Linked DNA regions of Homo sapiens. The protein of the gene in region 1 interacts with the protein of each later gene in a pairwise test. Each region holds a gene or a part of one and is shown in the gene's direction. Other genes may lie near its edges. The genes, in order: OIP5, ZNF417 and KRTAP13-2.

What was found.
Region 2: the proteins of OIP5 (region 1) and ZNF417 interact in binary tests that used the Homo sapiens proteins (3 or more experiments, as listed by UniProt).
Region 3: the proteins of OIP5 (region 1) and KRTAP13-2 interact in binary tests that used the Homo sapiens proteins (3 or more experiments, as listed by UniProt).

What each region holds. Positions count from the first base shown.
Region 1 is NC_000015.10:41,325,940-41,329,596, reverse strand, and holds part of OIP5 (protein Mis18-beta), read left to right. Parts: intron 1-3,657. UniProt on the Homo sapiens protein: Required for recruitment of CENPA to centromeres and normal chromosome segregation during mitosis.
Region 2 is NC_000019.10:57,906,488-57,910,144, reverse strand, and holds part of ZNF417 (zinc finger protein 417), read left to right. Parts: intron 1-30; coding exon 31-1,595; 3' UTR 1,596-3,657. UniProt on the Homo sapiens protein: May be involved in transcriptional regulation.
Region 3 is NC_000021.9:30,370,841-30,373,879, reverse strand, and holds KRTAP13-2 (keratin-associated protein 13-2), read left to right. Parts: upstream 1-1,608; 5' UTR 1,609-1,666; coding exon 1,667-2,194; 3' UTR 2,195-2,490; downstream 2,491-3,039. UniProt on the Homo sapiens protein: In the hair cortex, hair keratin intermediate filaments are embedded in an interfilamentous matrix, consisting of hair keratin-associated proteins (KRTAP), which are essential for the formation of a rigid and resistant hair shaft through their extensive disulfide bond cross-linking with abundant cysteine residues of hair keratins.

The sequences.
Region 1 (3,657 bases):
TACACCTATAATCCCAGCACTTTGGGAGGCCAAGGCAGGCAGATCACAAGGTCGGGAGTTCGGGACCAGCCTGGCCAGTATGGTGAAACCACGTCTCTACTAAAAGTACAAAAATTAGGGGGGCGAGGTGGCAAGCGCCTATAGTCCCAGCTACTTGGGAGGCTGAGGCAGGAGAATGGCTTGAACCTGGGAAGCAGAGGTTGCAGTGAGCCAAGATCGCACCACTACACTCCAGCCTGGACGACAGATCGAGACTCCGTCTGAAAAAAAAAAAAAAAAAAAACTAGAGGGAAAGCCCCATGTGTTTCTGTATTTGTGGAGTAAGATGAGCTATATGGGACTTACGAAGAGGGTTATGAAATGGCACAGCTCAAGACAACTTGATTTTTTTCTAAGTGTAGGTTCATTACCTAGATGGGGTCAGAGAATGAATTAAGAGGATGATTAATGATGCAGCTAAAAGAGCATAAATTTTAGAGACAGCAGACTCGGGTTCTTTTTATTCTTTTTTTTTTTTTTTTTTTTTTTTTTTTGAGATGGAGTCTTGCTCTGACCCAGGCTGGAGCACAGTGGCGGGATCTTGGCTCGCTGCAACCTCCGCCTCCCGGGTTCAAGCTATTCTCCTACCTCAGCCTCCCGAGTAGCTGGGATTCCAGGCGCACGCCACTATGCCTGGCTAATTTTTGTATTTTTATATTTTTAGTAGAGACGGGGTTTCACCATGTTGGCCATGCTGGTCTCGAACTTCTGACCTTGTGATCCACCTGCCTCAGCCTCCCAAAGTGCTGGGATTACAGGTGTGAGCCACCGCACCAGGCCTTAACTTTACTCTTAATGAGGCATGTGAAATAAATTGATCCCTCTCAATCTGTCATATTTGAATACTCCTAAAATATACTCCCTCCGACATTTATTTAAACATTCTACAATTGGCATGAACCTCTTAGATTCAAAGTCATAAAGTAGACAGATACAAGGTTACTTCCGTCTACATTTTATTGTTCTCTTACTGGTAGAGGATTTATTGTAACTAATTTTAAAAAGGATTATTATAGTATGTTGACACTTAGAAATAGCTTTTTTACCCTGAGCTTTTGTTGTGCTCAACAGCATATTTAAATGGAATTTTGTTTGTATTATAAGTGAAGTACATTTTTTTCTAATTGTTATGGCAAATTCAAACCCGAGAGAAGAATATAATGAACCTCTGTCTACCTGTCACTAAACTAGAGCACTTATCAACTCTTGGCCAATCTTGTTTCATCTAAAATCATAGTTGGCTTATCATGCTGGCTCACGCCTGTAATCCCAACACTTTTGGAGGCCAAGGTGGGAGGATCACTTGAACCCAGGAGTTCAAGACCATCATGAGCAACATAGCGAGACTTCATCTCTAAAACAAAACAAAATATCTATCCTCCACAATGTTTTGAAGCAGATACCTGAAATTACATCATTCCATCCATAAATATTTTGGTAAGGATCTTTATAAGAAACTTTTTTCTATTTATTTATTTTTTGAGATGGAGTCTGGCTCTTTTACCCAGGATGGAGAACAACCTCCGCCTCCCAGGCTCAAGCCATCCTTTCACCTCAGCCTCCCAAGTAGCTAGGACTATAAGGCATGCACCACCATGCCCAGCTAATTTGTTGTAGAGATAGGGTTTCAACATGTTGCCCAGGCTGGTTTTGAACTCCTGAACTCAAGTGATCTGCCCACCTTTGCTTCCCAAAGTGCTGGCATTACAAGCATGAGCCACTGCACTCAGCCTTTCTTTTCAATTATTTTATTTTATTTTTTATTTTTTTGAGATGGAGTCTTGCTCTGTAGCCCAGGCTGAAGTGCAGTGGCAGGATCTTGGCTCACTGCAAACTCCGCCTCCCGGGTTCAAGTGATTCCCCTGCCTCAGCCTCCCGAGTAACTGGGACTACAGGTGCATGCCACCACATCTGGCTAATTTTATGTATTTTAGTAGAGACGGGGTTTCACCATGTTGGCCAGGATGGTCTTAATCTCCTGACTTCGTGATCCTCCCACCTCAGCCTCCCAAAGTGTTGGGATTACAGGCGTGAGCCACTGCGCCCAGCCTCTTTTCTTTTTAAAGATATATCCCAATTCTGGCTGGGTACAGTGACTCACGCCTGTAATCCCAGCACTTTGGGAGGCCGAGGCGGGAGGATCACGAGGTCAGGAGTTCAACACCAGCCTGGATGACATAGCGAAACCCCATCTCTACTAATACAAAAATTTGCTGGGCGTGGTGGTGGGCGCCTGTAATCCCTGCTACTGGGGAGGCTGAGGCAGGAGAATCGCTTGAACCCAGGAGGCGGAGGTTGCAGTGAGCCGAGATCACACCATTGCACTCCAACCTGGGTGACAAGAGGAAGACTCCATCTCAGAAAAAAAAAAAATTTAAACATACCACAAACACTATAATAAGCCCCAGGTACCCAGTTTCAACAGTTATTAATATTTTGACAATTATTTTCCTCTATACTCTTCACTTTTTTTTTTTTTTAATTCCTGGAGTATTTTGAAACAAATCACATACAGTAAATCAACTCTTCATCACTTTGGTATTACTTCCTGTTGTCTTGTAGATTCACAGACTGTTATAACCAAAAAAATAACATAATCTAGTTGACCTCATTCTACTGATAAGGATATGGAGAAACAGTTGTATTTGGTAGTGTATTGGAAGTATTTTCCTCCTATAATATTCTCCAGTGCCCATGATCCAATGTAATGATGGAAGGCCCAGCAAGCTAGGTGATGCTAACCCTTAGTGGCAGAGCAAGGCAACCCAAAGCAGCTCAGCACGGATGGTTAGAGACGTAGTACCTACTGTGGTAAGATTGTTAAAAACATGGGGCCGGGCACGGTGGCTCACACCTGTAATGCCGGCACTTTGGAAGGCCTAGGTGTGCAGATCACCTGAGGTCAGGAGTTCGAGACCAGCCTGGCCAACACGGGGAAACCCCGTGTCTAGTAAAAGACAAAATTAGCCAAGCGTGGTGGTGCACGCCTGTAATCCCAGCTACTCACTTGGGAGGCCGAGTCAGGAGAATCACTTGAACCTAGGAGACGGAGGTTGTGGTAAGCCAAGATCACGCCATTGCACTCCAGCCTGGGGAATGAGCGAAACTCCATCTCAAAAAATCACAAACAAAAAACAATAAGGAGCCACAGACTATACACATGATCAGAGGCAAAGTGTGGGAATGAAGTTCTTTTTTTCTTCTACAGTGGTCAACTTAGGATAAATTTTTTTAAATCATAAACCATGGTTTAGCCACTGAGGCACCGCTATATCATTAATCTCACTATCTGAACTTATTGCAATTTTCTTTTCCTTGTTTTATAGTAATATTCAATAAAATATACTGTGTTTTACTGCACTTGCAGATACTGCTTTTTTGTTTGTTTGTTTTTTTGAGATGGAGTCACACTCTGTCACCTAGGCTAGAGTCCAGTGGCATTATCTCGGCTCACTGAAACCTCTGCCCCCTGGCTTCAAGCAATTCTTCTGCCTTAGCCTCCCTAGTAGCTGGGATGACAGGTGTGCCCTACCACACCCAGCTAACTTTTGTATTTTCAGTAGAGACAGGGTTTTGCCATGTTGGCCATGCTGGTCCTGAACTCCTGACCTCAAGTGA
Region 2 (3,657 bases), on another chromosome or scaffold:
TGCACTTGACCAGCATTTTCTTGCTCTCAGGTTGTTGGTGTGGATCAAAAGATGAGGAGGCACCTTGTAAGCAGAGAATTTCTGTACAAAGAGAGTCTCAGAGCAGGACTCCTAGGGCAGGTGTTTCTCCTAAGAAGGCTCACCCCTGTGAAATGTGTGGCCTCATCTTGGAGGATGTTTTTCACTTTGCTGACCACCAGGAAACTCATCACAAGCAGAAGCTGAACAGGAGTGGAGCATGTGGAAAAAACTTGGATGACACTGCATACCTTCATCAGCACCAGAAGCAGCATATTGGAGAGAAATTCTACAGAAAGAGTGTCAGAGAAGCATCGTTTGTAAAGAAACGTAAGCTCAGGGTGTCACAGGAGCCATTTGTCTTCCGCGAGTTTGGGAAGGACGTTCTGCCCAGTTCAGGATTGTGCCAAGAAGCAGCTGCTGTAGAGAAGACAGACAGTGAAACTATGCATGGCCCACCCTTTCAGGAGGGAAAAACTAATTACAGTTGTGGAAAACGCACAAAAGCCTTCAGCACCAAACACTCAGTTATTCCACACCAGAAACTTTTCACTAGAGATGGATGTTATGTGTGCAGTGATTGTGGAAAATCCTTTAGCAGATATGTCAGCTTCAGTAATCATCAGCGAGATCACACTGCAAAAGGACCTTATGATTGTGGAGAGTGTGGGAAATCTTATAGTCGAAAGAGCAGCCTTATTCAACATCAGCGAGTCCACACTGGAAAGACAGCTTATCCCTGTGAGGAGTGCGGGAAATCTTTTAGTCAGAAGGGCAGCCTTATTAGCCATCAGCGTGTTCACACTGGAGAAAGGCCTTATGAGTGTAGAGAATATGGGAAATCTTTTGGTCAAAAGGGTAACCTCATTCAACATCAGCAAGGTCACACTGGAGAGAGAGCTTATCACTGTGGGGAATGTGGGAAATCTTTTCGTCAGAAGTTCTGCTTTATTAACCATCAGCGTGTTCACACTGGAGAAAGGCCTTACAAGTGTGGAGAATGTGGAAAATCTTTTGGTCAAAAGGGCAACCTCGTTCAACATCAGCGAGGTCATACTGGAGAAAGGCCCTATGAGTGCAAGGAATGTGGGAAATCATTTAGGTACAGATCCCACCTCACTGAACACCAGAGACTTCACACTGGGGAAAGACCTTACAATTGTAGGGAATGTGGGAAATTATTTAACAGGAAGTATCATCTTCTCGTTCATGAGAGAGTTCACACTGGAGAAAGGCCATATGCGTGTGAGGTATGTGGGAAATTATTTGGTAATAAGAACTGCGTGACTATACATCAGAGGATTCACACTGGAGAAAGGCCGTATGAATGCAATGAATGTGGGAAATCATTTCTTTCCAGCTCTGCGCTTCATGTTCATAAAAGAGTTCATTCTGGACAAAAGCCTTATAAGTGCAGTGAATGTGGAAAATCCTTTGCTGAATGTTCCAGTCTCATTAAACACAGGAGAATTCACACTGGAGAAAGGCCTTATGAATGTACCAAATGTGGAAAAACATTTCAGCGAAGCTCTACCCTCCTTCATCATCAGAGTTCACACAGGAGAAAGGCCTTATGAGTGCAGTGAATATGGGAAATCGTTTGCTGAAACATCCCGTCTCATTAAACACAGGAGAGTTCATACTGGAGAAAGGCCTTATGAGTGCTGTCAATCTGGGAAACATCAGAATGTCTGCTCTCCTTGGTCTTAAGAGACTTCGCATTGGAACGGAGTCTCATTCTGTCACCCAGGCTGGAGTGCAGTGGTGCAATCTTGGCTCACTGCAACTTGGGCCTCCCAGGTTCAAGTGATTCTCCTACCTCAGCCTCCCAAGGAGCTGAGATTACGAGTACACCACACCATGCCCGGCCAAATACTTGGTTTTCAGTACCACAAGAGCTATGAGCTGGTTATCCACTTCATGTGGAATCATAAGTGTCCCCAAGTGACAATACGTATAGATTGCTGGGCAGTGAAACAGTTAAGATGTCACCGTAGCTTGCTTTCTATTCAACATCTTTCTAAGATTACCTTACTATTTCTTTTGTTCCAAGTTTGTATTTCCTCAGAGTTCTCACATATGGAAAGGATACACACTTTGTAGAAACAAGAACTTTATGTTATCCAAGTTCTGGGATAGCCATGAGCTCCAATTACCTCAGAGCTCCGAGTCCTCTACTCAGTACCCGTTGAGATTTATGTGTTCTGAGGCTTTTGTCTTCTAGCTACTTACTTCATTCTCCATGGGTAACGTCATTCATCCACATTAACTAATTTCCTCACTCCAAGCTCTTTTCTGGAGATAATCTCCAGTCCCTGTGCAGACACTGTCATTGCACTTTCTGCTGAAATGGTAGTTTCTTGCCAGCAAGGTGAGATTATGGAATCCAGAATCTTTTTTCAGGGGCCACATGCCCATTTCCCCACTTGCATGAATGTCGACACTGTAGCCACAGTTTTGGCCGTAAATGTGAATTTGGCAAGTAACCACTGTTCCCAAATTGGGAAATGTCCCAGTCAGAAGAAGATTATCTGGGACACTGATACTGACAGGGAGATGGGACATTCTGAGGGACCCGGAGGCAGGGAGCCACCTCCTCAGCTTCCCTGAGGGCTGCCTAGAATCTCTCTTGTTTCCTCTCACTCTGAATTATTCTTCCTCTCATGACTGACCAAACACATGGAACCTCACAAAGTCCATTTTAAGAGCTTTATCTTGTGAAGTGAAGAACATGAAGATAGTTTGAATCAAAGTTATTGAGTGGACACTTAATGTCTTTATAACATTTTTTACATATGTGTTTGTGTTTTTTGGGGAGCATAATTTGCAAATGGAATATCTGTTATTTTACTAAGATGCTTCATGGATACAAGAGTTAAAACTTCCTGTCCCATTTAGTGAAACAAAAGGTTAAGAAATGTGGATAAAGCTTGTAAGTTAGAAATGGCAAGATAATCAGCTATATGAAGAATCTCAGCTGGGTGTTTTGGCTCAGGCCTGTAATCCCAGCACTTTGGGAGGCTGAGGTGGGTGGCTTACAAGGTCAGGAGTTCAAGACCACCCTGGACAATATGGTGAAACCCTGTCTCTACTAAAAATACAAAAATTACCCAAGCATAGTGGTGGGTGCCTGTAGTCCCAGCTGCTTGGGAGGCTGAGGCAGGAGAATTCGTTAAACCTGGGAGGCATAGGTTGCAGTGAGCCGAGATTGCACCACTGCACTCCAGCCTGGTGACAGAGCGAGACTCCGTCTCAAAAAAAAAAAAAAAAAAAAAAAAAAATCTCAATCCCTAAATGTTACCTTTTATAACAGCAGGTTATATGGGCTTAGATATTATCCCTAAATTTTTTTTTTTTTTTTTTTTTGAGACAGAGTCTCACTCTGTCACCCAGGCTGAAGTGCAATGGCATGGTCTCGGCTCACTGCAACCTCCGCCTCCCAGGTTCAAGTGATTCTCTTGCCTCAGCCTCCCAAGTAGCTGGGCCTATAGGTTCCCTCCACCACGCCCACCTAATTTTTGTATTTTTAGTAGAGATGGGCTTTCACTACGTTAGCCAGGCTGGTCTCAAACTTGTGACCTCATGATCCACCCCCCTCAGCCTCCTAAAGTGCTGGGATTACAGGCATCTGCCACGGCA
Region 3 (3,039 bases), on another chromosome or scaffold:
GGTGTTAAAAGCTGCCATTATAAGGAATCCCATGTGTTGGGGGTGGTGCATACTTTTTGGTGAATTTAATAGGTGTCCATTCATAAAGCACAGCTTATTTTACTTCAGTGAATCAGAGTGATGGTTTAAGTATTGCACAAGGGCACTTCATGTGATGCATGCCACACTTTGGATTCTGCATGGGAGAGATAATCATAAAACAAAGTAACTAAGTGCTCTGAAACAGTGTGCTTTGGAATGAAGGAAGTTAATTTTCAGGTAGTTAAGAGGCTCTCTTTTCGATAACCATTGTGAATGCCATTTCCCTTAGTTAAACCAAATAAAATGTCAAATTCAAAAGAAGAAGAATAGACACAGATAAGAAGCCTCTTCCCCCCATTAATCTAAACATGGATTACCAATATTCTTTCTCTTTCTTGGGCTAGGAAGTGAAATATACTTCAAATGTATGAAGATCAGTAAGGCATAGAATTCCCCAGTTGAACACTATTCAGTGTGAATATTGTTAGGAAAAGTAAATAAGGCTTTGTTAGGCTTTTATATCTTAGTATAAATAAGCTTAATAGTTTCTTTTCTGAGACAAGTTAAAGTTGAATTTACTTTTATATTTGCAAGGTATTTGCAACTTGACTCTGAATAAGAAAACCATAATTAAAGCTTCAATTTTGCTTCTATCTTACTGAGAAATTAGGGGAAAGTTAAAGCTCTCTGAGAGGTAATTTTTCCATGTATGGGTTGAACAGGGGATGTTTAAAGACCCATATAACTCTAATACTTCAAGTTAAAAGCTTCAGAAAAATGTTAACAATTCCTCAAAGTTTAAGTATAAATTAATAATTGCAGCTAAGAATCTGTCCTTTTATCCAGAAAAAAAAATTGAAACATAAAACAAAATAAAATTTATGAGTTGATTTAGAGCATAACCATAGAATAGTGCTTGCTACAAGATAGGTTCATCAGAAAATATCTGAAAAACTTCAATTTAAAGTCTTACTAAAAAGTTTGTGTTTATTGTTTCCTAAGTGAGCATTGTCTAAAGTAGCCTCTTGTTAAGGAAGATGCCTGATATGGACACCCAACATAATGCTGCACTCCTCAGTTCTGATCCTGAGCTCTTAAGGTACTAGTAAAAGGTTTAACTGACAGATTGCTGAGGCTACTGAATACAGTTAGTATTTGGAGAAATCCTCCGTTTCTGGTAACAAATAATATGCTTGTGTTAAAAAGAAGGACAATCTATTTTGAGTAGTAACCACTGATGCTCCTGATAACTTAAGGGAAGTAAAGAAAGAATTTTGTGTAATTCCATTTGGTACAATAAGGACTCACTGTACTCAAATAATAAGAGGCAAGATACTCATAAATGTGATGACATATAACATTGAAGGTCAAACCACAGTGAATTCCAGGAAAAAAAAAAACTGAGTGGCTTCCTTCTAAGTGTTCCAGAGTGACTAAAGTACAAGTAAGTATATGAAGATGTGATAAATTAAACAATAACCTAGGGAAGCATTCTTATAATAAAAAGTGAGCAAGGAGAAGGGAGTGTCGAGACAGTGGACACACCCAGGTCTAAGAGCATATATAACTTGGAGTCCAGACTATGACATTCAAACTCAGAGAATCTTTCCACTATAACTCAGCTGAACTCACATCTCCCGTCAACATGTCCTACAACTGCTGCTCTGGAAACTTCTCCTCCCGCTCCTGTGGTGACTACCTGCGCTACCCAGCATCCTCACGTGGCTTTTCCTACCCCAGCAATCTGGTCTACAGCACTGACCTCTGCTCTCCCAGCACCTGCCAGCTGGGTTCCTCTCTCTATAGGGGCTGTCAGGAGATCTGCTGGGAGCCCACCAGCTGCCAGACGTCCTATGTGGAGTCCAGCCCCTGCCAGACCTCCTGCTACCGCCCCAGAACCTCCTTGCTCTGCAGTCCTTGCAAGACGACTTACTCTGGGTCTCTAGGCTTTGGATCCAGCAGCTGCCGCTCCCTGGGCTATGGATCGAGGAGCTGCTACTCAGTGGGCTGTGGGTCCAGTGGTGTCAGATCCCTGGGTTATGGAAGCTGTGGCTTCCCTTCCCTCGGCTATGGATCTGGATTCTGCCGCCCAACCTACTTGGCTTCTAGGAGCTGCCAGTCTCCTTGTTACAGACCAGCCTATGGATCAACCTTCTGCAGATCAACTTGCTGAATTTCCAGACCTTTTAAGCAAAGTGTCTCAGTCTCTACGTAGAGCTGTTATCATAGGCATTTCCAGCAATGTGAGCTAACCCCTCTTACTACTAGCTCTTCATCCTTTCTCTGGCATCAAGTACTGGCTGGACAGGCTAGTTCTTTCAGACTGTGAAATTAATGAATGAGCAAAATATAGAGTCAAATGTCTATAATTTTGAAACAAGTGATTCGTTATCACGTAAGTTCATCTTATAAAGTATATGGAAGTTCAGTTTTGTTTCACGTAATAAATTCATTTACTGTTGATTCCAATATGTTCTCTTTGTCTTTTATTGGTTTCCAAAGTTTGATTTGTGATCTGTTTTGGGGGCTCCAGGCCCCCAGACGTCTTTTCCTTGGACATCCATTTCCATCGGTAATGTCATCAGGCCTAGTGTGTGGGGAGATTCTCCGGGCATGCCAGTGCCTAAAAGACTGAGCAAGTGCATGTCTTCTGCCATGAAAACTGGTTGGATTCTTAACAGAATTATTGAGAGTACACTCATAATGGTGGTGTGTTTTCAAGGAAGACACATTTTGCTGACAATCATATTTGCTTTTTGTTTACATTTTTAAAAGAGTATTTAGAGTTTTCTCAGAAGATGTCAACTAGGTGATTAAATATAAAATTATGAAATATTTGAATAAATCTGAAATGTTATGATGGAAAAGGGAAAATATGAAATGTTAGGTACTGGAGGACATTACGGTTGTGTTTAAATATAGGAGAAAATTAATTATTCAGTGTGTGTGTGTGTTTGTGTTGTGTGTGTGTGAGAAAGAGAGAGAGAGCACAGAAGACAGAAAGACTTAAGGTTTACA